4 separate regions of the Homo sapiens genome follow, and regions 1, 2 and 3 are each reported to be linked to region 4. The links are microRNA targets in miRTarBase. Many come from high-throughput screens and were not tested one by one. Region 4 holds a microRNA gene; each other region holds the end of a gene's coding sequence.

Region 1 (7,118 bases), not on the chromosome of region 4:
TATTGTAAGAGAAAATATTTTCCTTTGATCTAGTGTGATTTTACAAAAATTGGTATCTAAAAATTCCTCAGAATACTTCTAAATTACCACAAACTTGGTGGGTTGTTTTTTGTTGTTTTTTTTGAGACGGAGCCTTGCTCTGTCGCCTAGGCTGGAGTGCAGTGGCACGATCTCAGCTCACTGCAACCTCCATCTCTCAGGTTCAAGCAATTCTCCTGCCTCAGCCTCCCGAGTAGTTGGGACTATAGGTGCATGCCACTACGCCCGGCCAATTTTTTGTATTTTTAGTAGAGACGGGGTTTCACCATATTGGTCAGGCTGGTCTCGAACTCCTGAGCTCAGGCGATCCACCCGCCTCAGCCTCCCAGAGTGCTGGGATTAGAGGCATGAGCCACTGTGCCCAGCCTAACTTGGTGGGTTTTAAAACAACAGAGTCATTCTCTCATAGTTTTGGAGTCCAGAACTCTGAAAACAAGACGCCAATCTCATGCAATGCTCTTTCTCGAGGCCCAAGGGGAGAATTTTTTTTTTGAGACGGAGTCTCACTCTGTTGCCCAGGCTGGAGTGCAATGGTGTGGTCTCGGCTTTCTGCAACCTCTGCCTCCTGGGTTCAAGCGATTCTCTTGCCTCAGCTTCCTGAGTAGCTGAGATTATAGGAGCACACCACCACGCCCGGCTAATTTTTGTATTTTTTGGTAGAGGTGGGGTTTCGCCATGTTGGCCAGGCTGGTCTCAAACTCCTGACCTCAGATGATCTGCCCACCTCGGCCTCCCAAAGTGCTGGGATTACAGGTGTGAGCAGCCACGCCTAGCCTATTATTATTTTTTGAGACAGGGTCTTGCTCTGTCACCCAGGTTGGAGTGCAGTGGCGCAATCATAGTTCACAGCAGCCTCAAACTCCTGGGCTCAAACAGTCTTCCTGTGCACCATCATGCCTGGCTAAGTTTTCAATTTTGTGTAGAGACCAGGTCTTGCTATATTGCCCAGGCTGATCTTGAGCTCCTAGTATCATGCAATCTTTCTGCCTTGGCCTCCCAAAGTGCTGGGATTACAGGCATGAGCCACTGCGCCTGGCCAGTTTCTTTCTTTTTTTTTTTTTTTTTGAGACAGGGTCCTGCTCTGTTGCCCAGGCTGGAGTGCAGTGGCACAATCCTGGCGCGCTGCAGCCTTAAACTCCTGGGCTCACGTGATCTTCCTGTCTCTGCCTCCCAAGTACCTGGGACTATAGGTGGGCATCACCATGCAAGGCTAATTAATTATGTGTAGAAATGGGGTCTCACTATGTTGGCCAGATTGGTCTCAAATTCCTGGCTTCAGGCAATCCACCCCAGCCTCCCAAAGTGTTGGGATTACAGGTGTAAGCCACTGCACCCAGCTCAGTTTATTTTAAGGTATGAGTTGATCATCTGTTTTCTTCCTGTCCATAGCGCTAGCAATGTTAATTATAGCTCTGAATACACCTTACAGCTTAACAAGAAGCATAGTAAACATGTGACTATGAGCACTTTTTTTTTTCGAGACGGAGTCTCTCTCTGTTGCCAGGCTGAAGTGCAGTGGCGTGATCTCGACTCACTGCAACCTCTAACTCCTGGGTTCAAGCGATTCTCCTGCCTCAGCCTCCAGAGTAGCTGGGATTACAGGCACGAGCCACCACACCCAGCTAATTTTTTGTATTTTTAGTAGAGACAGGGTTTCACCATGTTGGCCAGGATGGTCTCGATCTTCTGACCTCGTGATCTGCCTGCCTCGGCTTCCTAAAGTGCCAGGATTATAGGTGTGAGCCACTGCACACGGCCTGAGTACTGTTAAATAGTATTATTATGCCTTAAAAATCCTGACTTCGGCAGTTCCACACTAATCAAGAAGAGTGTTCAGATGTGAGGCCCAACCCAGGGGGATTCTGATAGAGGATAGTCCACACCTCTCTTGGAGAGTGGAATCATAAAAGAGCTCACAACTCCATCTCCATCTTGAGTTCAGTTCACACCTTTCTCTCCAGTGGTAGTATTCCTATGTCTCACATTTCTTTCATTGGATTCTTCTTTGGAGGAGCTAAGGGCAGAACCAAGCTAAGAAACCTGAGCAATTTATTGTCTTCATCACTGGTTTCAGAATTAGCAGCCTATGTTTCCATCCTCCCAAACATTTCAGTTATCTCAGCACACTAGCGTGAAGAAAGATATGAATGAACTAGCATGAAGCAAATAACACTGAGTGATTCCTTCTCCTGTCCACCCCCCACTCCTCATTGTTGTCTTCTAGATACCAGCAACTGAAAAGCAGAACAAAAACACTTGGATCGTAGGCTAACTCCTAAAAGATTGATCCCTGGTGCTGATACAGGTATGGACATCCTGACTTGCTATTTCTGGGTATCTGCACGAGGAATGGCAGCTGGATCAGAGTGGCCTGGACTGCGGGCAGTCTTTAGTTTTATTAGGAACACAGGGCCAGATCAATAATCAATTAGAGTTGGCAGGGGACCAGGGACTTGGAGCATAAACAAGTCATGAAGGGCTAAGAATTCAGTTCAGCTACAAAGCCTCCTGTAGAAGGACCCAAAGGATGAGGAGCCAGCAGACTATTTGGAATAAGGCATGTGGCATGCGGCCTGAGACAGAACAAGAAGTGCCTGAGAGAGAACAAGAAGTTCTTTCACAGAAGGGAGTAGGGACTGCTGGCTAAAAAGGGACCCCATAAAGCCCACAAAGCCCTTCTGTGATACATGCTTTGCTGGAAAGTCTGGCTGGAAAGTGGGAGCAAGGCCAAGATTCCATGGAGGCCAGAGGCCTAGACCAAGTCAACCCCACATTCCCTAAGTCACCTTTCTTTGTGAGCATGTTCTATGGAACAAGTCCCATAGTAAAATACCAAAAACCTAAGAGTTCAGTTGCACATGTGTACCTTTTTCCTTTTATAAATATTCATGACTCCTCCTATAGCTTATTAAATACATATATTCAGCCACCTTGTTCAACATAAATTCCTGTCCCCTTTGCCCCTCCCTCAGTTTGTGTTTCTGACTTCTGGCCAGAGGCTGTACTTCCCAGACTGTCAGAATGGCCACCCTGCAGACTGCAACCCTTTGAGAAATAAAGCTCTCCTTTCCAATTTTTAAAAATAAAAAAACCTGATGGTAAAGGAATGAAGCTGCTTTTGTTCTAATCTGCATTTCCCAAAAATGATTTGACAATATATTTTGTTTGGAGATGGAGTCTCACTCTGTTGCCCAGGCTGGAGTGTAGTGGCACAATCTCGGCTCACTGCAACCTCTGCCTCCCAGGTACAAGCAATTCTCCTGCCTCAGCCTCCCAATAGCTGGGATTACAGGCACCCGCCAACACGCCCAGCTAATTTTTGTATTTTTGGTAGAGATGGGGTTTCACCATGTTGGCTGGGCTGGTCTCAAACTCCTGACCTCAGGTGATCCACCCACCTGGGCCTCCCAAAGTGCTGGGATTACAGGTGTGAGCCACTGCACCCGGCTGACAATGAAGATTTTACAAATACCTTCTAAATTCATTTTGGGAAAGGCTAGTTTCAGCCCTTTCCAAATGTAACTCGTCTCCTCTGGGGAGCCCTCTCAAATTGCTTTAACTTACTCATCTCCCCTTCCTGTCTTGCAGCCTTTGATCATATAGGAACCCATGTGTCATGTTCTGAACCAGTCAGTCTCTAAGGCAGGTGCATAGAGCAGCTGTGTCCAGCTTGCCCTGGAAAGAACAAGTACCATGTGGCAGAAGAATAGGGACGGCCTTGCCAGGCTCTGCGGCCTAGCCCTGGTGGGTTTCCCAGAGATGACTGTGTGAGGAAGGGTGGTATGATTTGGCAGTTTCTCTCAGCTACAGCTCCAAATAGGCTCTAGAAGAGCATCACTCACTGTGGTCACTGTGTCTTCCCCTTACAAAGGGCAGTGAAGGTCTATGGTTCCAACTACAAAAAACAAAAATTAATATCCTATTCCCAGAGTACTATGCAAGCACTTTCAGCGTCATTCTCAGGGCACCATCCAAGCAGACAGGGCCTATTACCAACCCTTACTTATGTAACAGAAGTAACGTCACACTACTTCAGTACCCTGGGCATATCCACCCTCAGCTGGACCTCAGAGCAACTCATCTTGGGCTAGAGTTGGGGACCCAGAGCAAGCAGGTCTTAGTATTTGTGCCTGCACTTGACCTGCCTCTAACCTGGAGGTAATGGCTTGTGTTCCCCTTCTGCCACAAGCAATCCCAACAGCTCAAGCCAACCTTCCAACTAGTCATGTGGGGCCTTTTTGGCAGGCTCCTGGCTACACAATACTCACTCACACCATTGTGCACTGGAATAATTTTTATTTTTTTCCTTGGCAAAAAGTCAAGTGCTACATTTTTAAAAACAGAAAATCTCAAACAATCAAACGCATTACCCATTACAGAAGAGGGTCTAGCAATAGTACAAAACATCCTACTGAAGATTTTTTTTTTAAATATACAAGTCAGTTTAAAATGATAGAAGTTCTGTGAGAACTAAGAAATCTACAGCCTGTAGTTTAATAATAGAAAAAAAATTAAGACAATTAAAAGATCTATAGCATCCAGCATTTTGCTTAATTCCCTGTTTATAGCACCTATTTCTCTAGGTTCGAAGATGAGAATTCCAGAACCTGTGGTATGTGCTGTGTAACAAGTTAGGGTGGACTTGCTGTCTCTCCTCTCCAGTAGCCCCCCACCATTAAAAGGAGAATATATATATAATTTTTTTTCCAATTTCCCTTCTTACACCCAGAGAAGAGGGGGACAACTGGGAGAACAAGTTAAAAAACTGGGGTGCAGGAATAAATATGACTTTTCCTTTCCCCAAAATGGGATGTTGACAGAAAAGCAGAGTATGTGCTTAGAGGAACTGGTGGGTGGGAACAGCTGTTATCTTTGACATGATGTGTAAAAATCAGGGAACAAGTGGACATCACAGTCAGCTGCCTGCAAGTTTAAAAACCTCAGACTAAACAGACAGTTCAAGGGAGGAACAGACAAATTACTAATCACATTGATGCTGTCACATGCACAATGATGCTGACTGCAGGCCAGCCTGTCACCATCTCAGGGCTAAGCCAACAGAGTAGGAGGGGTGGCTTCAACCCCAAGTCCCACTGCAGTAAGAAAATGAATATTCCACACATGAAGCACTCACTACACACAGATAAACCCCCTGCTCACCCCCACCTTCTTAGACTTAACCCAATTTAGAAAATAATAGCAAAACCCACTGGGGAGATTGGAAGAATGGCAGAGAGGATTCTCCTCAAAGCCATGGGGGCTATGGATGTGAATCTTAGCAGACTTGAGACTCCCAGCTCCAGGCCCCTTAAAACCAGATCAGGTCTTGAGGGGAAGGAGAGAGAAGCTAGGATGGGGATTCAAGTCCCATGAAGCCTTTTGTAGCCTCTGGAGCTGCACCTGGATGGTGAGTCTGATGTTTTAGGGGTGTGGCTACTGGCTAAGCAGATGTGAGGGTGGGAAGGGGAAGTGACACCAACTTCCCACACGGGGGACACACAGGTGGGAAGACAGGTAGGGCTGGATCACTTTGCAGTCCTGGCATGGGAGGCCCCAGGAAGCCTACAATCTAACTAAAAAGATTTTCCCAGTGGTAATTTCTTTTCCTTTCTGTTTTTACTTCCTATTATCAGTGTTGTTAGACTTAAAAAACAAGATACAGACTAGTCCCAAAGCTGGACTCTGTGAATAAAGTTGTTTCTTTTATAAATATTTTAATTACAAGTAATCCTCACTCCAGGTAATTTCAGTGACACACAGTACCTACAGGCACACAAGATCACACACACACACGCAGACAAGATCTCTCTCTCACACACACACAGACACACACAGCTCCCAAACTTTCACAGAAAGTCTGAGAGCAACCATGTAATTATAAAGGAGCCCTACCTCTCAAGAGTGAAGTAAGGGTGAGCTATGTCATTTCAGCCTGAAGAAGCCAGAGACAGGAGAATGTGTGTCACTTAAAGAAAAATAGGGATTAGCAACAATGTTTGGTTGAAAAGCCAGAAATAATAAAAGATAGTAAAATTTTGATTACCAAAGGGGAAAACAAAAAGCAAAACAACTTTCAGATTTCTGTACAGAGCTTCTTCCTATTAAGTGCCTAAACTATAGGCAAACTTTGGTGTTCCCACTAAAACACAAGAGCCTCACACAATTAGGAAAAAAAAAATCAAAAGAAACAAGGAAACTGAGAATGGAAGTTAGTGTAAATCTCTGCATTTGGGGAGTTGTCATTAACTCCAGAGCCCAGCATAGTTTCCATGGAGCCCTGAAGGGAGGGGACCTCCTGCCACAAAGAGTTTCGTTCCAGACGAGTCGTAGCAGTGGGTGTAAACAGCATTGGGGAAGAAGTCAATGTCTGAAAAGTAATTCCTCCAGGTTTCATCATGATTCTACGGGAAGAGAAAGAGACTACAATTAGCACCTCTAGCCATGGGGCAGGAAAAGGGGGAGGAAGGGACAGGAATGCTTTCTGGTCTCCTTAAGGGAACAGGGTTCTACAGGTACAACCTCATGTCAGGAGATTGGCTGGTTGGTTCTCATGGGAATCAGGGCCTCATTTTTCCAACTAAACGTTAGAGAAGAACGGAGCAGCTGAAGAATTGCTATACAAGGCTCAGTTCTTCTCAGGAGACTTAGAACCAAAGTTCTGTTTTCCCTCCACCTGCTAGGCACAGGAGGAAGAACCAAACACTTGAATAATTCACTGGAGGTGGGGCGCAGTGGTTCATGGCTGTAATCCCAGAATTTTAGGAGGCCAAGGTGAGAGAATCACTTGAGCCCAGGAGTTTGAGACCAGCCTGGGCAACATGGCGAGACCCCATCTCTACTAAAAAAAAATAAATTAGCCGGGCACAGTGCATATGCCTGTGGTCCCAGCTACTTGGGAGGCTGAGGCAGGAGGACTGCTTGAGCCCAGGAGTTCAAGGCTACATACAGTAAGCTATGATCACACCACTACACTCCAGCCTGGGCAACAGAGTGACCCTGTCTCAAAAAAAAAAAAAAAAAAAAAATTCACTGACAGCTGTGGTGGGAGGTCCCTTATCCTTCTTGCTCTATTACACCTT
Region 2 (7,118 bases), not on the chromosome of region 4:
CCAATTTACCTGTGTAATTGAGGTCCTTTAGGTTGCTTGATATGATATTCATTTATTAAACACTTTGGCATTATCCCAGGCACTGTTTCTAGATGCTGAGAACAGAATGGTTATTCAGAGAGGATACACAAAAAACAGCTCTCCATGCTGGTCTCATGAAGAACAAGAACATTTCAGAGCCAAGCTTCAGGGAGTTGTTCTAAGACTGGACATTGTATTCAGGTGTGATGATGACAGATCATTTTATTGTTCCCTAAGAAGTGTCTTAAGTTTTTAACAGGATTCCTGCCTTTGATGAATTGCTTTCTTGACCTCATGGGCCCCTTCTTGCTCATGATTTCTGCATCCTCATTGCTTCTGTTAGTCACGGCTTCTGAATACTCACTTCTTTGGTGCGTCCTTTTTTTTTGCCTTTTCATAGAAATTCCCCAAAGAGAATGTGCTAAGGTTGTTAGTTGTTGCTTTCCTTCTTACTGGCTGGTCACGGCACTCATTCCAGGGCCCTCTTACAGACTGCTGGTGAGCCCACATTGGCAACTCTTGGATCAGACACCTCCTTCAATCCAGCTGTGATCAAGATGGTGGGATCACTCCGTAGGTTTTTCCATGTAGGGCCTGAGACACTTCTCTAAAGTAAGAAAGTATAACTCGAAGGTGCCTCGGTTCACTTTAGTAAAATCTGTAAATATCTAGCATCTAGAAAAGTGCTTGGACCACAGTAAATTAGCTCACTAAACTGTATCTAGAAGCATTGTACATATACATATTTTCATCTTAATACCAAATGTGACACTCACCTGATCCTAAAACCAATTTTGTAGTCCTATTTGGGGAAAAAGGTTTCAATCTATATAAATTAAAGAAAACCTCACGTATGTTGAGATACTATTACTTCATTGGTCCCCATTTGACCACAGTGCATTTGGCAAGGTCATACAATATTATTAAAATGTTTCTTTTCTGAGACAGAGTCTTGTCCTGTTGCCCAGGCTGGAGTGCAGTGGCATCATCATAGATCACTGCAGCCTTGAACTCCTGGGCTTAAGTGATCCTCCTACTTTAGCCTCCTGAGAAGCTAGGACTACAGGTGCACACCCTTACAACTGGCTGTATTTTTTATTTTTTGTAGAGATAGGGTCTTGCTTTGTTGCCTGGGCTGGTTCTTGAATTCCTGGCACCAAGCAATCCCTCTTGCCTCAGCCTCCCATAATGCTGAGATTACAGGTATGACCCACTGTTCCTGGCCAAAAGTTTCTTAAATTGTATTAAACTTACTTCTATTTTTGAGGTGTTGAACACTCTGAATTAAGTTGATTTCACTTTCAGTCTTTATAAAGCTGGTCATTTGACTCAATTTATTTCAGATATTTTATTCTAGGCTTAGACATTTTTCCCATAAGAATTGTTACCATCTTGATTGCCCATGAAATAAAGTCTTTTCTGGCATTTCTTAACCTTGCATGGAATGTCGTGATTGCCTCTATAAAATTTTCTGGTATATGGCTATGGCATAGTAACAACTAGCTTGCCTTGTACTTGGCTAAAATGTGAATCTTTTAAAAAATGCAACTCAGGCCGGGCACAGTGGCTCACGCTTGTAATCTCAGCACTTTGGGAGGCCAAGGCGGGTGGATCACTTGAGGTCAGGAGTTTAAGACCAGCCTGGCCAACATGGTGAAACCCCGTCTCTACTAAAAACACAAAAATTAGCCGGGTGTGGTGGTGCACGTCTGTAGTCCCAGCTACTTAGGAGGCTGAGGCAGGAGAATCGCTTGAACCCAGGAGGTGGAGCTGAGATTGCGCCACTGCACTCCAGCCTGGATAACAGAGTGAGACTCTGTCTCAAAAAAAAAGGCAATTCATAAATTATTTTTCAGTTCCAGTCAGTATTTTCGTCTCACTCTCAAATAGGTAAATTCTCACTTTAAAATCTTTCTTGAAAGTGTCATGTTGGCCTCAGCTGCAGTTTGCCTTACACATTTCCGTCTTATTGCCCCTTTCAACAACCTCTGCTGATATTATACCCTTAGTGAATCTTCACAAAATAATTTACCTCTGCAATCAACAACTTGACTCCTCAGTTGCTGCATTACGTTTATTCTCTAGGTAAGCCTTTTTTTTTTTTTTTTTTAAAGAATGCTGGTATCATGGGATAAAGCGCTCAAGAGAGTTTCCTATTTTTCTTTGGCATGAATGTAGTGCACTGGCGTTGAGAGGCAGAGACCAAAAGGTGTGTTGATACATGCATCCTCAGAAGCTTGCATTATTCATTTTGGGATATTATCAGTGAACTAAAGGTAAAACATATTAAATCATAGATGAGCATAAAATCTATACCTCCCAAAAGCAGAGAAATGGATTGAGGCTGAGAAAAACATTCTGAGGACTTCAACCTGTATGTATGAAAACACAGACCCCGGTCTGTGTGGCCTCTTTGATTAGGGTGGAGAGCATCAGACCTTCACCAAAACCTTCTACAATATCCCTAAAACTTGGCAAAGTTCTATTATTAACATAACATAAACTCTGTCCCTGCAAACTGTTACACTTGGCAAATACTTATTTCTGGAAACCCTTAAGTGGAGACCAGTCTTGTGCTACACGGAGGAAGTATCCTAAAACATAAAAGTCTAATAAAACCTAAAAGGAAAACGAACCATGCCCTATTTGTCACTGTCTCATATTTTTAGCAGAACACACACAGTAATGATAAAGAGGTTATTCTCCAAAACATCAGATTCTTAGTATTTTTTCAAAAAAAGTTTGAGAAAATTAAGCTGAGTGACAGTCTAGGAAAGTCCCTGAGGAATGGGTTTTAAAGTGAAAAGACAACAGAGATGAGCATGTAACAACATACACAAACACGCAGGTTCTTCATTTTTTAAAAGGTGTGGTTGAAGCTACTAGAATGGTTAAAAAATAAATAAATAAATAAATAAATAAATAATTTTCCCGACTATTTTGGTGTCCAGGTTTTCAAAATTTCTCAGCAAAATAGCTGGCACGAATACCTTGGAAAGATCTTGAAGCCTAGCCCTGGCCATTTTCCTGTTAGCTTCTGGAGGGACCTTCCTCCCGCTCCTCTTCAGGCTCCCTCACATGTTCCAGTGTTTGGTGCCTCTGCTTCCAGTTGCTTCCACTCTGACTTCTGAGACTTCTCAGTGGCTGATGGCTAATACTTTTAGTTATGCTTGCTTGAGGAAAAGAAATGAGTCACTCATTTAAACATGTGCGTAAGCAGGCTGCTACTTACTGGTTTTTACCTTTTAAAATTAAGTGCCCTTCTGATAGACTAAAGTATTATTCAGACTTACCACACATCAGCACTCATATTGTGTACTAGTTAGAAGTCCAGAATCACTAGCTAAATTGTACTCTCCACTTAATAATCATGACCTTGAATGTCAGTTTCTCTGAGGTCCTGTCTCTCAGTATGTATACTGGGAACCAAAATATTACGTACCATAAAGATTATTGTTGGAAACGGTTGAGAAGAGACAAATGTTATGCAAATATATTGTGACAGCATCTTCATTTTCAAGAAACACTGAATTCTGAACATGGTTTGGCTGGTGCTAACGTTAATGATATTAATTGCTTTGGATCAACAGAGATCTGCCTAAAATAAATAGGCTATTGGGCAGTTTCCAATAACCATGAGGCTAAATCTCTCCAGCCGAAGGACTTGCTTCTGCAGGAGACGAAAGGCTTCTATTCCAATTTAATAATAAAAAGCATGCATGATTCATTAAGAATATAGGCAAGGCTTTATGTTATATTTATTTATTTTCCAGCTTGTACAAACTGGATGTAGAAGCATAAACATAGTACATTTCTACCATCTTCAACAAAAATATAACCAATATGTACAATTATTGTATTAAAAATACAAAAGGGATACAGACTCCACCAATGTCTTTCTAAAAGACATACAGGTACAAGTAGTATCAAAAGTATGAGGAAATCACCAGTTAATTGTACATTCTGCACTTGACATCACAGAGCGAACTGAGATTAGCAGTCCTATGTTCTACAATTACTTAATGCTTAGATAACATTTGTGCAACTTGTGGTAGAGCTAGATTTCTGTCTTTCTATATGCACATGAGGTCCATAGCCTATATAATAAAACTGGCAAATAATGCATATTACATGTAAAATTACAAATGCATAATTGACAATGTAATAAGCAAGTAGACAAATGCCATGATACAGAAGAGAATTATTAAATAAAGCACTGACATTGTTTGATACAGTGAAAAAACACTGCAATTCCACTTTTAAAATTTGAAGCTATTTACGTTTATCTACTGATCAATATGATCAGCTGAATTTAATGGAAAAAAAATCCAAGACCAGCAGTTCCTCACATTTGAGTACTACTCAGATTGGCAGCCTTCACTTTTCCGGAGTCTGTGCAAAACAACACAAAAATAGAGTGGAGGGGTCATTTCAGTCATTATAGGGTTAATAGCAGCTGTGAGCAGATGGTTGCTACACTTAGGCCTTCTCTATATGCAGCGTCCATAAAGCCACTTGGAGGTTAGTCTTTGGTGACTAACCTGCCTTGCAAAGGCTGGCATGTCTAACCAGGTTTTTGATCTTTTATCACGTTTAAAGGCTTGTTTATTCCCTAATGCCAATTCAATAAAGGGAGGCTGTCTTGAAAGAGCAGTATAAACAGCTGGCATTAGCTCCAACATCCCAAGCTGCTTTCACTGCAATGCTATCCAGTTATAAATGTTTCTCTTAAAAAAAAACAAAAAAACAAAAAACAAAACCTACACCTCTAAATTAACAAAAATCAAAGAAATATAACTTAAAAATGGGGTTTGCCATCCATCTCAATGGAGCAGGACACATCCGCCAATGACACCGTCCTGCCTCCATAAGGCTCAGACAGGACACAAGGGTCCTAGTTCCCTCCCCTGGCCATGTGCAAACAGTTTTACAGAAGAACCCCATCCACTGGGGAAGGAGCAGATGAGGTGTCTTGGTATTAATTGGCTAACATTTCATACTTCCAGGATAGGGCACTTCGCGGGTGAGACCAGAAGGACATGGGAAGCCAGGGTCACAAGCCAGGTCTTCCCGTCTTCTTGGTGTGGCCACACCCTGTCCGGCATATTTGGTTTTTCAGAAACCAGGCTGGCAACCCTACTTAAGGTTTAAAATAATACTGTAATCATTAAATGGATATATATTTACTCTCTGAACAAAATCTTTAAACTCATTTTTTTTTTTTAAAAGGAGGACATTGTAAACAAGTGGACAAGCACTGTACTCAAAGGATTTCATTGTTTTTCTTTGTCTTCCTTGGTGGGTTAAAGGCCCCAAGTAGTTCAATGGCTAGCTTTTCTCATTATCCCAATGAGATCAAGTGCTAGGACTGGATTGAAATCTAAAAGGAAGATTAAAAAAAATCCTTCCAGGCATTGAGAAGTGCAGCCAGAGTGAATCATCTTGTTGTGATGATCTTGGAATTTGGAATGATACTGTGTGATGTGGCAGGCAGCAACAGTGGGAGCTCGAAGATTGCTGCACTGTGCATTTCAAGCAACAAAGTCTGAAAAGTGCCAGGGCAATTTCTTCACAGTATTTCACATGCAAAGGGGAAAGGAAGAAGGGGAGAAGAAGCCCCATGCTGCTTTTAAGGCAGGGAAGGAGGCAAACTGGTCCACCGTCCTCAGAATGTGAGTTCCAAGGCTCCAATGCTCAGGACGTCTTCTTGTGCTCTCCTTTCAGGTGGCTCGCTCTGCTTCCAGAAAAGTCTGTGCCTCAAACAGCAGAAACTTGTTCATCTTCTGCAAATACAGCAGGGAAGAAAAAGAAATCAATGAGCAAGCAAGTAATTTCTTGTGCTATAGAGAATATATTCACTGATGTGCTAAATAAAACTATCATAGTTATTCTTTTTAGTATAGCTCACTTAGAATCCTTGTCTTTTTTTCCTAAACAATGACGAACAACAAAAAGGTTAAAATGTATGCAATACATATCTTTACATATATACACACAATATTAAAAAGATATGCATTATATATTTTTGTTCAGAAAGTTGTTAAATTCATTTTAAAAAGTTGTAAAATAGCATGTGCCATTTAAAAAAAATATACGATCAGATACACATAAAAAGTCTAGAATATATAACAACATTTTAATAGTGGCTATCTGCAAGTGACAGGATTTTAAGTAATTTTCATTTGTAATGTTTTTCTATTTATTTAATTTAATTTAACTTTTTTGAGACAGGGTGTGGGTTTGCCATCCACAGTGCAGTGTTCTCGGCTCACTGCAACCTCCGCCTCCCGGGCTCAAGCGATTCTCCTGCCTCGGCCTCCCAATCTCCCAGTCACGTGTTGCTTTTTTCTATGATTGTGTAATCAAACATGTTAAACTGAAAACTTTAAAGAAGATGGGAGGCCATGTTCTCCTTCCTCATTCTCAATTCAGCATGGTCAGATAGATTTGTAGAAAGAACGCACAAAGAGTTATAAAGAATGTGGGTTCCTTCCTTCCTTCCCTTTCTCCCTCCCCTTCTCTCTCTCTTTCTTTTAGAGACCGGGTCTTGCTCTGCTACCTAGGCTACGGTGCAGTGGCACAATCATGGGTCACCACAGCCCTGAACTCCTGGGCTCAAGTGATCCTTCCACTTCAGCCTCCATAGTAGCTAGGACTATTGGCACACGCCACCACGCCTGGGTCATTTGAAAAATATTTTTATGGAGACAGGTCTCACTATGTTGCCCAGGCTTGTCTCGAACTCCTGGCCTCAAGCAATCCTCCCACCTCAGCCTCCCAAAGTGCTGGGATTACAGGCATGAGCCATCAGGCTGGCTGATAATGTATCTTTCTTTATCAGACTTTCATTTCCAAATGAGTCCCAATTCATTAAAAGCGCAAATATAATGTTTCCACAGAAAACTTTAACCATCCACCTTTGAGAATCCTACATGCTTCTAAAATTCTTGACAACAGCACAAACTTGTGAAATTTTCATTTTCTTTTCCTTTTTTTGAGACAGAGTCTCACTCTGTCACCCAGGCTGGAGTGCAGTGACATGTTGTTGGCTCACTGCAACCTCTGCCTTCCGGGCTCAAGTGGTTCTCCTGCCTCAG
Region 3 (7,118 bases), not on the chromosome of region 4:
CACTCTCTTAATTAATACTATTTTCTTAATTTCTAATAGACTTTGCTGTATATAATCTGAAATTGTTGGTGATTATGTGATTATTGTGGATAATCTCTTGATCAATTAAAGAATTCTAGTGCCTTTGATATTAATATTATGATGATCTCTTACTTTTTTACTGTAATTCCCTGGCATTCTTTCTCATCTTTTCATATTCAGCCAGAATCATATTGTTTTGGTATGTACTTTGAAATAGTAAAATTTCACGAGTCTTACCGTTTTCAGAAATCAAATCCTGCTAATTTCCTCAGCAGAATCACATTTTTATGCTTCTTTCTCCCTCCTCACTACTCACTTTTACTAAAATAAGTGAGAACCTGGGAACTAGCATAAAATCAAATGATTTATTGTTATTTATAAAATATTTATTATGCTCAATATACATATTTCCTTTCAGATGTTAACATATTGTTTGATAGCCATCATTAACACAGTACTTAGCACTAAAATTGTACATAATAGGAGCCACTGCCTCACAGCCAGCCCACAAATTTCCTACAGTTTTCCTGTCGATCAGTTATTTCCTTTGATTCATTCTGTACATTCCTGAAAAACATCTGTATGGTTTTCCAGTAAAACTGCATGAGTAATATCCATGCTTTTGCACTTAAACGTCAATTTAGATAGACATGCAATTTGTGCTGTAGTAAGTGACCTAATTCTCCTACCTTACAAATTTCCTTCACACAAAAAACAGTCTGATGCTTTTTAGTTTTTATCTTTTTGTTCCCCTGAACATAGTGAGTACTGCCCACTTCTGGTGTAGTATCTTGAGTTTAGGGAAGTTTTTGTCCTGTTTCCTCTAAAATGTTGTTCCTGTTACATGTGTTCTGTTAGTATTTTCCTTCTATCACTTAACAAGACTCTGGATTCTCATTGTCTGATCTCTGTATCTATGATATTCTCTTTGGCCATTTTCCTTGTTTTGCACTTTTTCTCTGGGTTCTAGGGGATTTTCTTAAGCCTGGTCTCCATATCAGAGGTAGATTTTCCTGGGGCTGATGATGCTCTTGCTGTTCCTAGGGTAATGTTAAGTTCTCTAACAGAGAGATCCCTCTCCTTAAATTCTTTCTTGGTGTTGCCAGCTGTTCCTGCATGTCTTATCTTTTCTCTCACCTCATTTCAGAGTCCCTGCTCTCCTTAAATGCCCTGAGTAAATACCACTTCTACTCCTTGGAATGAATCTTCCAGAGCATGGTCTTTATCACGTGCATCTGGTGCTCACATCCTCTTCTATTTAACAGACCTATGTTACTTGCTGTTTACTTAAATCAATTAGGGGCAATTCTGCTCTTTTGGTTTCAAACAATTGGGGTCATTCACCTGTTCTCCCTTCCTTGTTTACCTGGCCTTTCCCTACATCCACAACCTAGGACTAGTGCTGGATAATAGGATGTTGTAAACCCATCAGTTCTGTCTTCTAGAGACCTGAAGAAGGTGGGAGGACTGGGACTGTAGGTGAGGGTCTTGGCTGAGTCCAGGAGCTTTCTATACTTGTTGAAAACCCCATCGAGGGGTTGTTATCCTGAGTGGAAAGAGGGAATCCTCTGCCCCCGCATCACCTGGGAATGCCTGTGGTGGGTACATACCCATGGTGAGGGCACAGGCAGCAGCTCCAATCTGCATCTGTGCATCAGGATGAGCAGCACTTTGGTGAAAATGCTAGACACACAAACTCCCTCCATCTGGGAGCTGTTGGTGAGGAGCTTCCTTTTCTTGTTTTATGTCCTTCCCAAAGTCCCTTTGCTATTCTTGCTTTTCGAGTGTAAGAAGGGTTCCTTTGCAAGATTTCATCTCTGCCCAGCTGGCCCCTGTAGACTACCTCTACCCCTAAAGGGAACATAGCCCCTGTAGAGTACCTCTACCCCTAAAGGGAGCCTCATTTGCCCAAGCCAGAAGGGAAGTGGGGAGAAGGCACATGGTTTCTCTTTGTGGGGGCCCTAAGTCCATGGGGGTTTCCCATTTTTCCTTTTTCCTCTGCCCTGCCCATACTCCTCTTCCTCAGAATTGAACATGTTGTAAATAAAATCCCCTACCTGGCTCTTCTATACTTCTCTGATAAGTGCCAAGGTCCAGCATCTTTTACTTTGGTTCAAATTCTGATGCCATCTAATGATTTGTTTACAGACTAAACTTTTTCCTCTAGTTTTGACTCTCTGACACCCGTTTGTGATTCTATTGGAGATAAAGGTTTCAAAAACATTTCTGTGCAACAAACTGAAACTCATATAGGAAACATGCCTTCCCTCTTCTCTTCCCCTCCCCTTGTCTGTTTCACTGGCCGGCTCCCAGCTCTAAGGGTTCCGGTAACTAGGAAAGGAGGAAGTCACTGTTGCCTCAAATGTTCCAGCCCACAGCAGCAGCTTTGCCATATGCCAAGTGACCACAGAGGACTTTGTCTCAGGACAGGGTGGGGCTCAAAGTGTTTTTATTCTGCACCAGCAGAAAAGTGCAATGCTGAGAAGTGGGAACATCTTGCTGATTATGCTGAGAAAGGCAGAAACACGTGTTTGTGGAGAGGCGGCTGGGCCACTCACCTTGCAAGAAACAAAATGTGCTGTGAAGCAGGAAAGTACATAGCATCCTGTACTTTCATACCGCTCAATGCATCTCTGCAAGCTTATCCCAAGTGCTGCCTCATCTGATCTCACCACAGGAATCACAGCAACATTTCAGATAAGGAAAAGGAGGTCAAGGGCTTGGGTCAAAGTCACCACAGCAGTTAGTGGGGGTCAAAGATTGCAATGAGCATTTCTCTTCTTCCTGCCCCAGATGATTGGACTTAACAAGGCCAAGGAAAGCTTAAGTGGGTCATCATCCCTGGCTTTCCTTAAACATCAGCAGGGTGGGAATGGCTAACAGGAGGAGAAACACAGAGTGTGAACTTGTATCACCCCCCACCTGCCTACCCAGAGACTGTCTATGTGAGTGAGATGAACACAAACCCCAGTACAGTGAAACACTTTTATGAAGGCTGCCTGAGAGGTAATCTACTGACTTGGAGAGTATGTTCAAGGGATCATATAGGAAAGTCATGGGCTCTTCCCCACGCAACCATCTCCAGAGACCTAAATAAAAAGCAAATTTAATACGAATAAGTGGACAGATGAGCTGCCCAGTAGGCAGGCACTGAGAGACTGATCAGTGGGATACTCAAGCAGAGTGAGACAGAGCGGAACCTTCCAAGTGGTATTAGTGTTGACCTGGATTACATCCCATAATGAGTTCTGGATCCAGAATTACCTGAGGGAAGGGGTCTGTTAGCAGTGCCATAAAGGGTCAGTGGCTCTGATCTCCCAGGCGTCAGGGTCCCTTGCAGAGATGACTGAGAACCAAGTGCACAAAGCACAGATGAAGCTGCTACAGGCTGGAACCCCAGGGGCCACTGGAATGTCCATTTCCTGCAGCCTGCCTATACTGAGGTTTAATCTAGATAACGTTTGACAAAAGGGTCAGGGTAAGATTAGGAGATGATAATTAACCTCTAGGAGTCTACCTCATTGTACAGCTGCTCCCCCACTGGGTACTCCCATTCTTCTAAGACCAAGGGCTGCCAGTGGGACCCACACTGCTCTGCATCAAGCTTCCAGACCACTGCCCACCCTCCCTTCCTCAAAAGGCTCTCACCTGGGAGATGCTATCCTGTCATGCCTGCTTTCCCCTCTGGCAGGTGCCACTGGCCTTGTGGCCACTCCTCTTGTTCACCAAGGATGCTGACTCCTAGGTCACACCATTCTCCTCAACATCTGTCGGTTTCTTGCTTCAGCACCCATGTGGAGGCTCACCCTGCCCTCCAGCCTCGCCAACCCTAGATTTCACTTCTTAAGGCTCCTCCCTGGCTCTGGCCAGCAACCCCAGGTCATACCCTCTATTTTGCCTTTACCTGAGATTGCTCCACCTCTCAATTTCCAAAGCACTCCTGTCTGGCTCAAATATACCTCCCTGCCCAACCCCTCACCATGCTGGAGTTTCTATCTTGTCAAGACCTCTAATTTCCTAATCCCTCCCTAGTCACCTCCTGTTTTCAATTCCAATTTCTTGGTCAGATTAAACCTTAGACTGCACATTTCATCACTACAATTTCTCCTGTGTATGTCTTCTGAACTGACCCATCTTTCTCTCAACTCCTTTTACTTCCCTGGCAAAACCCCAACACTGCAGTAAGTGTACCCATCCCAGCTCCTGAATCCTGATGAGGGGAAGACAGGTGTGTGCAGAGCCCCACTCAACACACACACACCTGAGTGCCCAGCATCCTACTCTAAACTGACCATCTCAGAGCTCAGCCTTGCCCTGCCCTTCTGCTGTTGCCTTAATCAACCTGTTTTCCAACACCTAGGAAAACATCTACTTCATACCTTCTGAGAACACACTCCACCCACAACTAGCTGATAGTCTCACTTCATTTCACAAAGAAGAGATTCAAACTCCTTCATCATTTCCCCATTAATTTAGTCATCCTAATCTTCTATACTTGCCCCTTTCTGTTTTATTGAGCCATATGAGGCTGCAGGACTGTGTCTCTTCCTACAAAGGTCCCATCCCTCCTTCTTTCTCATGGACTCTGCTCCTTCAGGGGTCCTCCTCTTTGTGCCCCTCCCATCTCTCTCATCACACCATCTTGACTGTTGCCATCAATATTGGCATGCTCTACCTCCCATCTTAAACATGCCTTGACTCCATAGCTCTCTATTATTAACCTGAGCCCCTTGAAGGCCAACTTCTCACACGTTCTACTCCCCAACTTTCCATTCACTCAACCAGTACAGCCTGCCTTCCATACCGCCCTTCCTGAAACTGCTGCCATCATAGTCATCAAACACTTCATGTTACTGAATTCAATGGACAGTTTTGCCTCTGTTTTAGTGAAACCCTCACAAGCACTCTGCATAGTCCGCTTTCTGTCTTCTTTAACGTGCCTGGTTCCCTCTGCCCAAACTTTTAGGATTGGGCCTCCTCAGGGCCTTGTCCTGAGCCCTCTTCTTTTTCTCTCTCCATGGATTACCTCCTCCAGTCTATGTTTTTATACCACCTTTATGTAGATGAAGTGAAGGCAGGGTGGTGCTAGACTGGGGTGGGTCAATTCCCTTCTGATAGTCTCGGAGTCTCAGGCATCCCAAAGATGAAAGCTCTAGAGGAGAGACACCAGTCCTCACAGGACTCATGTCCATGCTCAGTCCAAGGAGACCTAGCCACTTCCTTACCCTTCCTGCTCAGTTTCAGAAGAAAAGGATTGGGGATTGGTTGGGCTGCTCTCCCACCTTTTAAGAGCCAACTGCTTTGGTCACCACTCAAGACAAGAGCAAGTCTATTTTCAGAAAGCACAGGGGGTGCTCTGTTTCTCTATCCTCCCTAACAAATAGGCTGGGCTAGACCCTGGAGGGCAACCATGGAGGAGTGTGGGAAGGATTCACCCTTGCTTCAGAAGCTCCTTGCAATCAGGGACCAGGGTAGTGTGACAAATGCCACTTCAAGGTTAAACTGGACATGACCAGGGGAAGGTGTCAGGCTGTGTGTTGTTACAGATTGTATATTTGCATGCCTGGGGGTTACCAGGCTGTACGCATATAAACAGGGAGGAGGCAGGCTCTGAGAACCTGCCAGGGTGCCTGGGATAAGCTGTGACTTTTTGCCCCTGATGCCATAAGTTGGAGGGTCCTCTGCTCAAAACATATGGTACACACTTCTCCTTCTTTTCATCTGGTATCATGTATCATCTCTCAGATCCAATAAGAAAACATTCCCACGTCCTTCCCTCCCTCCCTAGTACCAAGGTCCTCATCTCAGTTTTCATGGGTCCATGGAGGGCTGCCTCTAGTGATGAGCTGGAATCTTAAGGCCTGAAATAGAGCCAGACTGCAGCAGTCCCAAGTCCTGGAGAGCTTCAAGTAACTGCTCCCGCGCAGAGCCAATAAAGGAATTCTCCAGGAAGGTAGGCAGGCCTCCTACACCATCCCGCAGGGTATACAGGGGCACTCGCACCAGGCCCAGCACCTGTAAAAGGAAGGAGACAGGAGACACTAGGGCCCCAGGTGGCTCATTCCCTTAACTCCATCCTTTCTCCAGCAGATCAGGCCTCACCCCTTAATACTCCAGCAGAACCAGGCCCAAGGCTCACACCTCACTAAAGCCTAGTGGCCCAACCTTCTGCAGGAAAATGACCCAAAACATATTATCTAGCTCTATCAATTAATCTTTCCCACATCTGCTTCTAAACCTCTAGTGGCTACTGCCTCAAAGATGTATTCATACCCTTTCACCAGTGGTTGTCAAAATGTGGTCCTCAGATTATTTGCATCAGCATTATTTGGGAACTTTTGAAAACTACAAATTCTCAGGTTTCCTCTCCCCCCGCCCCACCACCAATGCAGGAATGCTGAGAGAAATCGCTATTTTAATAAGACGCCCCGATGATTCTGCTACCTGCCAAATTTTGAGAACCACCTTCATACATAATCTATCTACTAGCCCTGCCTGAAATATCAGGGCCACATCTCCTACACAAGAAAAGCAAACCCCAAGAATAAAACCTAGGTTGCCACACCTAGATAATGTGATAATCTATCACACTGTCAATAGGGAACAGCAGAGAGACATGGATGAGTGTGTTCTAGAAAGGATCTCTCCTGGTAAAGGGTGGGAAAGACCTTTACAGAAAGCCCAGGTTGGCAGTACTAATTCAGAGTATAGATGATCACGATCCCAACTCCACCAAGAAAGCTGGGGAGAGGGCAAGGTCAGAGGGGCAAAGACTTTTCTCCAGGGATGCTTTCTTGGGGGAGAGAAAGCTTTGGGAGAAGAGGAAATTGGGAAAGGGACAGAGTCCCAGGCTGGTCCCACCTCCAGCCCGTGGTCCTTGGCGCGTGTTGCGCCGGCCTCCACAGCCAACAGCTCCTCGAGCGTCAGACGCTTGGCATAGAAGTGGGCCACAACGCGTGGCCCTGACCCGACGTGGGAGCTGCGGTAGTCAGTGCGCTCCACGCGGAAAGCGGCAGCCGCTTCGCCCAGCTCCTCGCGCAGCTCGCGGTTCAGCCCGTCCTCTAGGCTTCTGTCCTGCGTGTCCACGAATCCGCCGG
Region 4 (7,118 bases):
CCTGCCCTGCCCACCCCCCAGGTCCGCCCCATTCCTCTTGGTAGCTCAGAAATTGCTCTCTTGTGAACCTTATGGATTCAGGTCCCTGGAAAGCCTAGCCCAGAGACCTTTTCCCCAAAGGGCACATAACGGGCCTTTTCCTCTGCCATGCTCACGTAATATTTGTGGAGGCTTCAATCTTGCTTCTCCATGTCCTCAATTAACATCTATTTTCTGTCTAAAACCTCTGGCATAGGTACCACATAAGGATCGCACACAGGGAAACAGAGCAGTCCTCTAGACCATTGTCTGGCTCTGTCCGTGTCCACACACACACTTGAAAATTGCCTTGTTGCCACTCTGGGGACCCTAGCATGGTGAGGTCTAGCCAACTCCACCTGGCTCCTCACCTCCAGATCCATCCCAAACAGCCTGCAACACCCTCAGCTTCATGACCCCCCTATCTTGTTCTGACCACTCAGGATCCCTCCTCCTGGGCGTCCTGTCTACCTCTTCAGAAGCTAATTCTACTTTCTCTTGCTGATAGGCACCTCTTCAGCAGTAGTGGAGCCTTAGGGCCTGAGAGGCAAGGGACTTCTACCTTTGGTTTAGGGAACCTAAGTTAAACCCCATTGGTTCTCCAGCCTGGGCATAGGCCACCTTACCTAACTTAATCCCCTTTCCTCAGCCATTTTTGAAGATTGGAAGACCCTGGAGGTTGGGAGAACGGGACTTTCATTACAAAAAGCACTCTGTGCGTTATAAGTGGGGCCTCGTCTTTTCCCAATTTTAAATAGAATTTAAAAGGCTAGCTCAGGGGTTGCCCCAACAACCAGCTTCTCCTTCACAGTGTAGGAAATCCAGCCACCGGAAAGCAAGCTGGCGCTCCAGGATGCAATTCCCCCACATAGGCACCAGGTGTCGCTGTGGGCTTGTTGTCCCGGCTACCCCCAATTCCAAGAACCTTTTTTTTTTTTTCCCTCCCCCTTCCCTCTTTCTCTCTCTCACTCCCTCTCCCCCTTGGTTGGGCTTTGCCAACATATCGAGATGCTTTTCGCCGGCTTCCATCACTAACCTCCCGGAGGTCATCAAGCCAAATTTATGAGTGGCCGCTCGAGTCACGTGACTCTATTTAAGGCTCCCTTATTTGGGAAGAGCGCATAGGATAAAGAAAGAGATATCTCCACCTATAAATTGTCCACTTTGGAGAACAAAAAACCCCTCAACTTCAAAGAGTCACAAATCACCCTTAATCAAAAAGGGTGCAGAAATTTTTTTGGGCCCTCCCCGCCATGAGCTCCTACGTAGCCAATTCATTCTATAAGCAGAGCCCCAATATCCCTGCCTATAACATGCAAACTTGTGGGAACTATGGATCGGCCTCAGAGGTGCAGGCATCCAGGTACTGCTACGGCGGATTGGACTTAAGCATCACTTTCCCACCGCCTGCGCCTTCCAACTCTCTCCACGGGGTAGACATGGCTGCCAACCCCCGGGCTCACCCCGACCGCCCCGCCTGCAGCGCCGCGGCCGCTCCGGGACACGCTCCGGGCAGAGACGAAGCGGCTCCTCTGAACCCCGGGATGTACAGTCAGAAGGCGGCTCGCCCGGCGCTGGAGGAGCGAGCTAAGAGCAGTGGGGAGATCAAAGAGGAGCAGGCGCAGACAGGGCAGCCCGCCGGACTGAGCCAGCCACCGGCCCCGCCACAGATTTACCCGTGGATGACCAAACTGCACATGAGCCACGGTAAACTTTAGGACTTCATTTTGCGCTCTCGGGTCCGCCTGGGTTTTATAGGCCATGCGGGGCAAATAAAGAAAAAAAACCTGCGGCCATAAATTTTACGATCCAGGCATCAATGGCTCGTAAAACTGTCCACTAAAAGGCTTAGAGGCTGTGTGCGCCCAAATTTACGACGACATAATTGGATCATAGGAACAAAACGTGTATAAAAGGCAATATTCAATTTTTGGGGGAGAGGGAGGGAGTTAAAAAAATAGAGGGATCTGAAGGGTGAGGAGCGCGGGGCTCCAGAGCGGGGATCCCCCCGCGGCTCCCTCCCTCCCTCCCCTGCGGAGCCGGCTCCGCCGGCGCTTGCGGCTCCGGAGGATTCCAGCGACTCGGGAGGGGCGGGAGGGGGGTCCCCGGTGCTCGGATCTCGAGGGTGCTTATTGTTCGGTCCGAGCCTGGGTCTCCCTCTTCCCCCCAACCCCCCCTCAGCCCCTCCGGCTGCAGAGTGAAGGCTGCGGTGGAAAGTTTCCTGCCTGGGCGGAGGCGCCTCTCCCGGGGCTGGGCTGGGCTGGCCCGCCTGCGGCCCGCGTGGCCTGTCTTGCGGCTCTCGCCTCCTCTCCCTCCGGCCGCGGGTGGGGGCCTGGGCTGGGGTGGGGACGGGGGAACGCTGCAAGCTATTCACCCCTTCCTGGCTTGGGGTGGGGTTTATGTTCCAGAGACGGACGGCAAGCGGTCCCGAACCAGTTACACGCGCTACCAGACTCTGGAACTCGAGAAAGAATTCCACTTTAACCGCTACCTCACTCGCCGCAGGCGCATAGAGATCGCCAACAACTTGTGTCTCAATGAGAGACAGATCAAGATCTGGTTCCAGAACCGCAGGATGAAGTGGAAGAAAGATTCCAAAATGAAAAGCAAAGAGGCTCTTTAGAGGCAGCGGGGGAGGCCCGCAGAGCGCGCCCCTAGCCGGTTCCTGTCCCTGCGCCTTTCCTTTTCGCCTTTCCTCTCTATATTTCGGGTCGGGGGCAGGTGCTGGAGCACTGGGCTCCCGGGCCCCACAGACAAAAGCGCTTTTCCTTGGCATTCCGCATCCCTACCGACCCAGGGTTCCCGCGGGGCTGTCGGCGCTGCCCCATCTCCCCTCAGCTCGGCTCAGCTCGGTACCCGGGGCCCAGGGCAAGCTCCGCAGGACTTCCCCGGAGGGCTGCGGCGTACAGGCTGGCGCAGAACGAACCTTGGCCTGGGCCGTATCTCCGGCTCCCAGCCTCAGCGCGGCCCTCCCGAGTTAAGGTGGGCCCGGCCCGCGCCACAGGACCCTCGCCGGACCCTCTAACCTCGCCCTCTCCTTTGTTCCCGGCTGGACGGGTTAGACAGCCAAAGGCTGGCGAGAGTCTGGCCCTAGACTCGGGGTGCTTCCTTGTAGCGACTAAACTAGATTTTCACTTATGAATGATTTGCATATGAAAGGAGAGCATCGGCCTAGGGCCCCCACAGTTGCTCTATGCTTTCCAAACCTTATCTCCACAACCTCTTCCCCCCAAAACCCGGGAACCTCCCCAGCCTGCGCCTGCTGCATGCCCTCTCAGGCCGGCAGCCCCAGCCTGCTAGCTAGCTCAACTAGTGGGGTTTCCTGGCACTGGACCCCAGCAAGTGGTCCTAGAGGCCCTTTGCTGTCCCATAGTCCCTGCCACGAATTTCTGTGCCCTCCTGACCCATTGCTGTTGTCCAACTATTTATTGACTCTGGGTCCTTCCTGAAACTATATTTTGTCATATCAAATAAAGAGAGAACAGGACTAAAGATGCAGTGGCTCCTGTCTGTTTGGGGCATGTATTGGGTAAAATTGTCTAAATGGGCTGTGAGATGTAGAAGGAGACCCACAAACTTTAAGCCACCCCTTTAAAAAATTTTCTAGCTTCTAGGGGCAGTGAGTAGAGGGAGGTGAAATTGAGCTCCTTTCCTGTTCCTTGGCTGCAACAAGAGCCTCTGGGGGAAGAGAAGGGCACCTAGGCCTCGAGTACTGGCTTTTCCCATGCTGTGGCTGTCCAAGGCCTTCACGCCTCTGCACTCCAGGAGGCCTCTGGACTGGCAGCAGCCCCCACTGTGTGCCAAAGCTGCGGTGCAGGAACCAGTGGCTCCACCGTGCTCAGCCTTAGGACCTTCTGGGCCTCTGAAGATCTTTCCTGGGCCTAGGTGGTCCCTGAGAGGCCTTGCTGGACATAGAGGGAGGGCTGAGCCCTCACTCTAGGGACCCATTTGGTCTCATAAGGGCCTCTAGAGGGAGGTGGTATTGCTTGGTAAGGGGGTGTTGGGAGAGTTGGAGGAGGTGTGCCTCAGTATCTAAGATACTGGGGAAGAGGGAGCAGGGAGGACAATCTGCAGTGTGTATCAGCCTGGCAGGAAATGTTCAGACTGTTTCCACCACCTTCTAGGGCCTCGGGCTATGCAGGACAATTAACTGGGAAAGGAGCTGCATAGACCAGTGCTGGAGTCACGTCTGTCTGCCATCATTTATCTCAGTCTCTGGGATTTTGTGTGGAGGGGAGGATGGGTTAAAAGTGGGGGTGGGAGGAGGCAGATAATTCAGGTAGTGTCTGAGGATCAGGTCCTTCTCCAGGCTCCTGGGATGGGCTGGGGGAGGAAGCACTTTACAGTAGAAACAAATGTGGGAAGGGTCCATAAAACTTTACTGCATTTCCTCTCCCACCTCCCACAACAGGGTGATTTCCTGGAGCCAAGCCTAGGCCCCCCACACTGGTGGGGTGAGGGTCTGGAGCTTGGCTAAGGGATTGCACCAGCAGCCAAGAAGAAAGGGGAGCAGAGGGGCTCTGGGGAGGGGCAGGGGAATATTTATGATTATTAATGCTGATGCTCCTTGGATTTATTATAAGGACTAACTTCGCTGCATCCCACTGCCTAAGCTACCCATCAGTCATTTTTTAAAAGACCCAAGAGCCTTTCCTCACCCCATGCTTGGCACATAGGCAGTCTCAACAAATGCTTATTGAACAGTGCCCACAACTACCACCCTTCCCCTTCGCACTGCACTCAGGCCAGGTTAGGGCGCCTGTTGTCTCTCCTCAACTTGCACACAGCAGTTAACCCAGACCAGTGCTCTCTCTCTCTCTCTCTGAAATAAAATGTGTAATTTTCTTCAGGGAGTTATTTTAATTTTTTCTCCATGCTGAGTAAAACTATTGAGTGAGCAGTGAAGCGTGGAGAAGCACTGGCGTCTCCGGTGGGTAACAGTTAACTAAGAAAGAGGCTGTGGCACCCGCACCCACCTGTTCCAGCCTCCCAGGCTGCCCAGGCCCTGTGCTTCCTCCCCAGGGGACAGGCGCACCACCCCAGGGGAAAACCAAGGGCTTTGTCATAGATAGGGGCAATGTTGGTTAGAGCTGCCAGGCAGGGCACACCAGCCCCACCGTGCACTGACTGCCTCCTCCCGGCAGGGTTTGGGCCTCTCCTTCCCTGGAGGAGCTGAAGGTCTGACTCATTTTGGCTTGGGTAGACACAGAGTGCCTGCCTGCCCTCCTCCTTCCTGTCACAATCTGCAGGTCTGCCCAGGCACCAGCCTTGGCTTCTGCAGCATCGTCGGGAGTCAGCGGCGGCAACCAAGCCAGAGGCCTCGTACCTACTTCCCTACGCTGAGGGTGCATAAGGCCCAGATCCCTGATTTCTCCCTGAACAGGGGCTTCTGCTTTGGGGCCTGGGGTAGTTTCCCCACCAGCCAGCCTCCTAGAACATATTTCCAGGTAACAGGGTCTGGCATTGCTCTGGGGGAGTTTATGGAGGGGTCTTCTGGGTTGCAAGCAGAGACTATGGAGCCTGCCTCTCCACTTTGCCCTGGAACCCACCCCCTCTGGCAGCAAGAAAGAAGGGGAAGAAGCATGACTTACCTTCCCGGGGGAGTGGGAAGAGGGGGGACACGGCCCACTCTGAGCAATTAGAGGAAAGAGGAGGAAAAAATAAGAGGACAAAAAGATCAACACGACCTCGAAGGCGACAGGTCCTTATGGAAATAAGTAAGTAAATAAATAAATAAGGATCCACCCTCTCCCCCCTCTCCACCCTGCAAGGGGGATGTGGGGGTGGGGCAAAGGAACAGCACCAGGGCTTTTTAGTGTAACTGAGCATTAGAGAAATAGGCATGCTTCTATGTGAATTTAGGAGTTTGAAACTTTTGGAGGTTATTTATGTGAATAGCCTGAAGGCAAGCCCGTGAGTGGCTCTTGGGGGACCACGTGATATCATTAAACCAAGTTTTATGGTGTAGGGAGAGCTGACAAACCCACAATATATTTACATCATATATAATCTTAACTGTCCAGCCACGCAGCTGCTGGTGAGGTTTAATGCTAGGACAGAGGGCCTGGCAGTTAGAGGGGATTACGGCGCTGGGGACGATGGTGAGAGAGGTTACATCTTCGCAAATGAATCCCAGGCGAACGCTGTGAGTTAATTCTCTCTTTCTCTCTCTCAGACCCTTTCTCCCATTTACCTAACCACCCCCCTCACTTGATAGAAGGCAGCTCCCACTTATTAGGGGGAGGGGGAAAAGGCCTTCCCAGGCTGGGGTGGGAGAAGAGAAGAAGCAGCAGAAAAAGCTGCTGGGAAGTAGGAAGATGGGGGAGCTTGTCTACCCTGAGCAGCCCTCCCCTTCCCACTCCTTATTCTCTCTGACTGCAAGTCAACTGGGGTAGAGAGGCCTTGGTTGTTTAGAGATTTGCCAGGTCTTCCTGACCCTTTCAGTTGAGAAGAAAGCAAGCGGCAGCAACAAGGGTGTTTGGTGTCTGTACGGGTATGTAAACTCTAGACACAAGCTCAAAATGCCTCTGGGGCCCACTGTTCCAGGGAGGGGTGAGTTCAGCCCTTGGCCAGTGGCCCAAGGTGGGAAACTGGGGAGAAAGGCAGGGAAGGAGGGTTTTGTGGCTTCTACGCCCACAGGCTACTGCTGCCTGAACTGGCAAAAGTATCTCAAAGGTGGCTGTTTGAACCCAGAGGTCCCAGAGTGCCCCCTCCCTCCCTCACTACCAGGCTTGGATGGGCAGCTGTCTCAGCCTCCGTAGTTTGGCATCTTAGTCCGTCTGAAGCCAGTGTGGTTTCATGCTTCCTCCTCTCCTTCTAGCTGCTTGGGTCTTCCTGGCATTCCCAGCCCTTGCCTGAGATAAAACTAGGCTCTAAGAGCCCTAGAGGTTCCTGCTGTGAGTGGAGTGTAATTGTGTGTTGAATGGGTGAGGGAGCAGAGGCAATGTCTTTGCTAGGCTGGGAAAGTAAGTCCCCCAACCTTAAGGACAGAGTAGCCCCTCGGGGATGGAGCTAGCAGGGCCCAATATGAGCACTGCACCCTGGGGTCAATCCTCAGGCTAGGGCGCCCTTCAGGTTTCTAGGAAGGAGCAGCAGAAGCG

What was found. The annotated mature microRNA hsa-miR-615-3p reads UCCGAGCCUGGGUCUCCCUCUU and lies in region 4 at 2,159-2,180, shown strand. An mRNA with a match to its seed (bases 2 to 7 or 8) in the 3' UTR can be bound and repressed. Matches are read on the target gene's strand: a 7mer-m8 pairs with bases 2 to 8, a 7mer-A1 pairs with bases 2 to 7 and ends in A, and an 8mer does both.
Region 1: miRTarBase lists DCAF12 as a target of hsa-miR-615-3p. The part of its 3' UTR that is shown has no 7-base or 8-base seed match.
Region 2: the mRNA of RAPGEF2 is a reported target of hsa-miR-615-3p. The part of its 3' UTR that is shown has no 7-base or 8-base seed match.
Region 3: miRTarBase lists NUDT16 as a target of hsa-miR-615-3p. The part of its 3' UTR that is shown has no 7-base or 8-base seed match.

Annotation. Positions count from the first base shown.
Region 1 is chr9:34,082,069-34,089,186 of GRCh38, forward strand. It overlaps DCAF12 (DDB1 and CUL4 associated factor 12), which reads right to left. Exons shown (of 9, transcript NM_015397.4): 9 at 4,319-6,440. The coding sequence ends at 6,282. Among named protein-coding and RNA genes, the nearest start is that of UBAP2, 37 kb to the left of the region's middle.
Region 2 is chr4:159,356,800-159,363,917 of GRCh38, reverse strand. RAPGEF2 (Rap guanine nucleotide exchange factor 2) reads right to left here. Exons shown (of 30, transcript NM_001394067.2): 30 at 3,745-5,804. The coding sequence ends at 5,779. Among named protein-coding and RNA genes, the nearest start is that of MIR3688-1, 230 kb to the right of the region's middle.
Region 3 is chr3:131,382,080-131,389,197 of GRCh38, reverse strand. It overlaps NUDT16 (nudix hydrolase 16), which reads right to left. Exons shown (of 3, transcript NM_152395.3): 2 at 6,883-7,118; 3 at 368-6,036. The coding sequence ends at 5,857. Among named protein-coding and RNA genes, the nearest start is that of NUDT16, 3.9 kb to the right of the region's middle. RefSeq lists enhancers at 6,416-6,984, 6,985-7,118.
Region 4 is chr12:54,031,852-54,038,969 of GRCh38, forward strand. It overlaps MIR615 (microRNA 615), which reads left to right and starts at 2,099; the gene lies at 2,099-2,194. It overlaps HOXC5 (homeobox C5), which reads left to right and starts at 1,199. Exons shown (of 2, transcript NM_018953.4): 1 at 1,199-1,725; 2 at 2,427-3,510. The coding sequence starts at 1,272. The coding sequence ends at 2,641. It also overlaps a transcript of HOXC4 not described here. RefSeq lists enhancers at 714-1,008, 1,003-2,154 and a silencer at 2,238-2,297.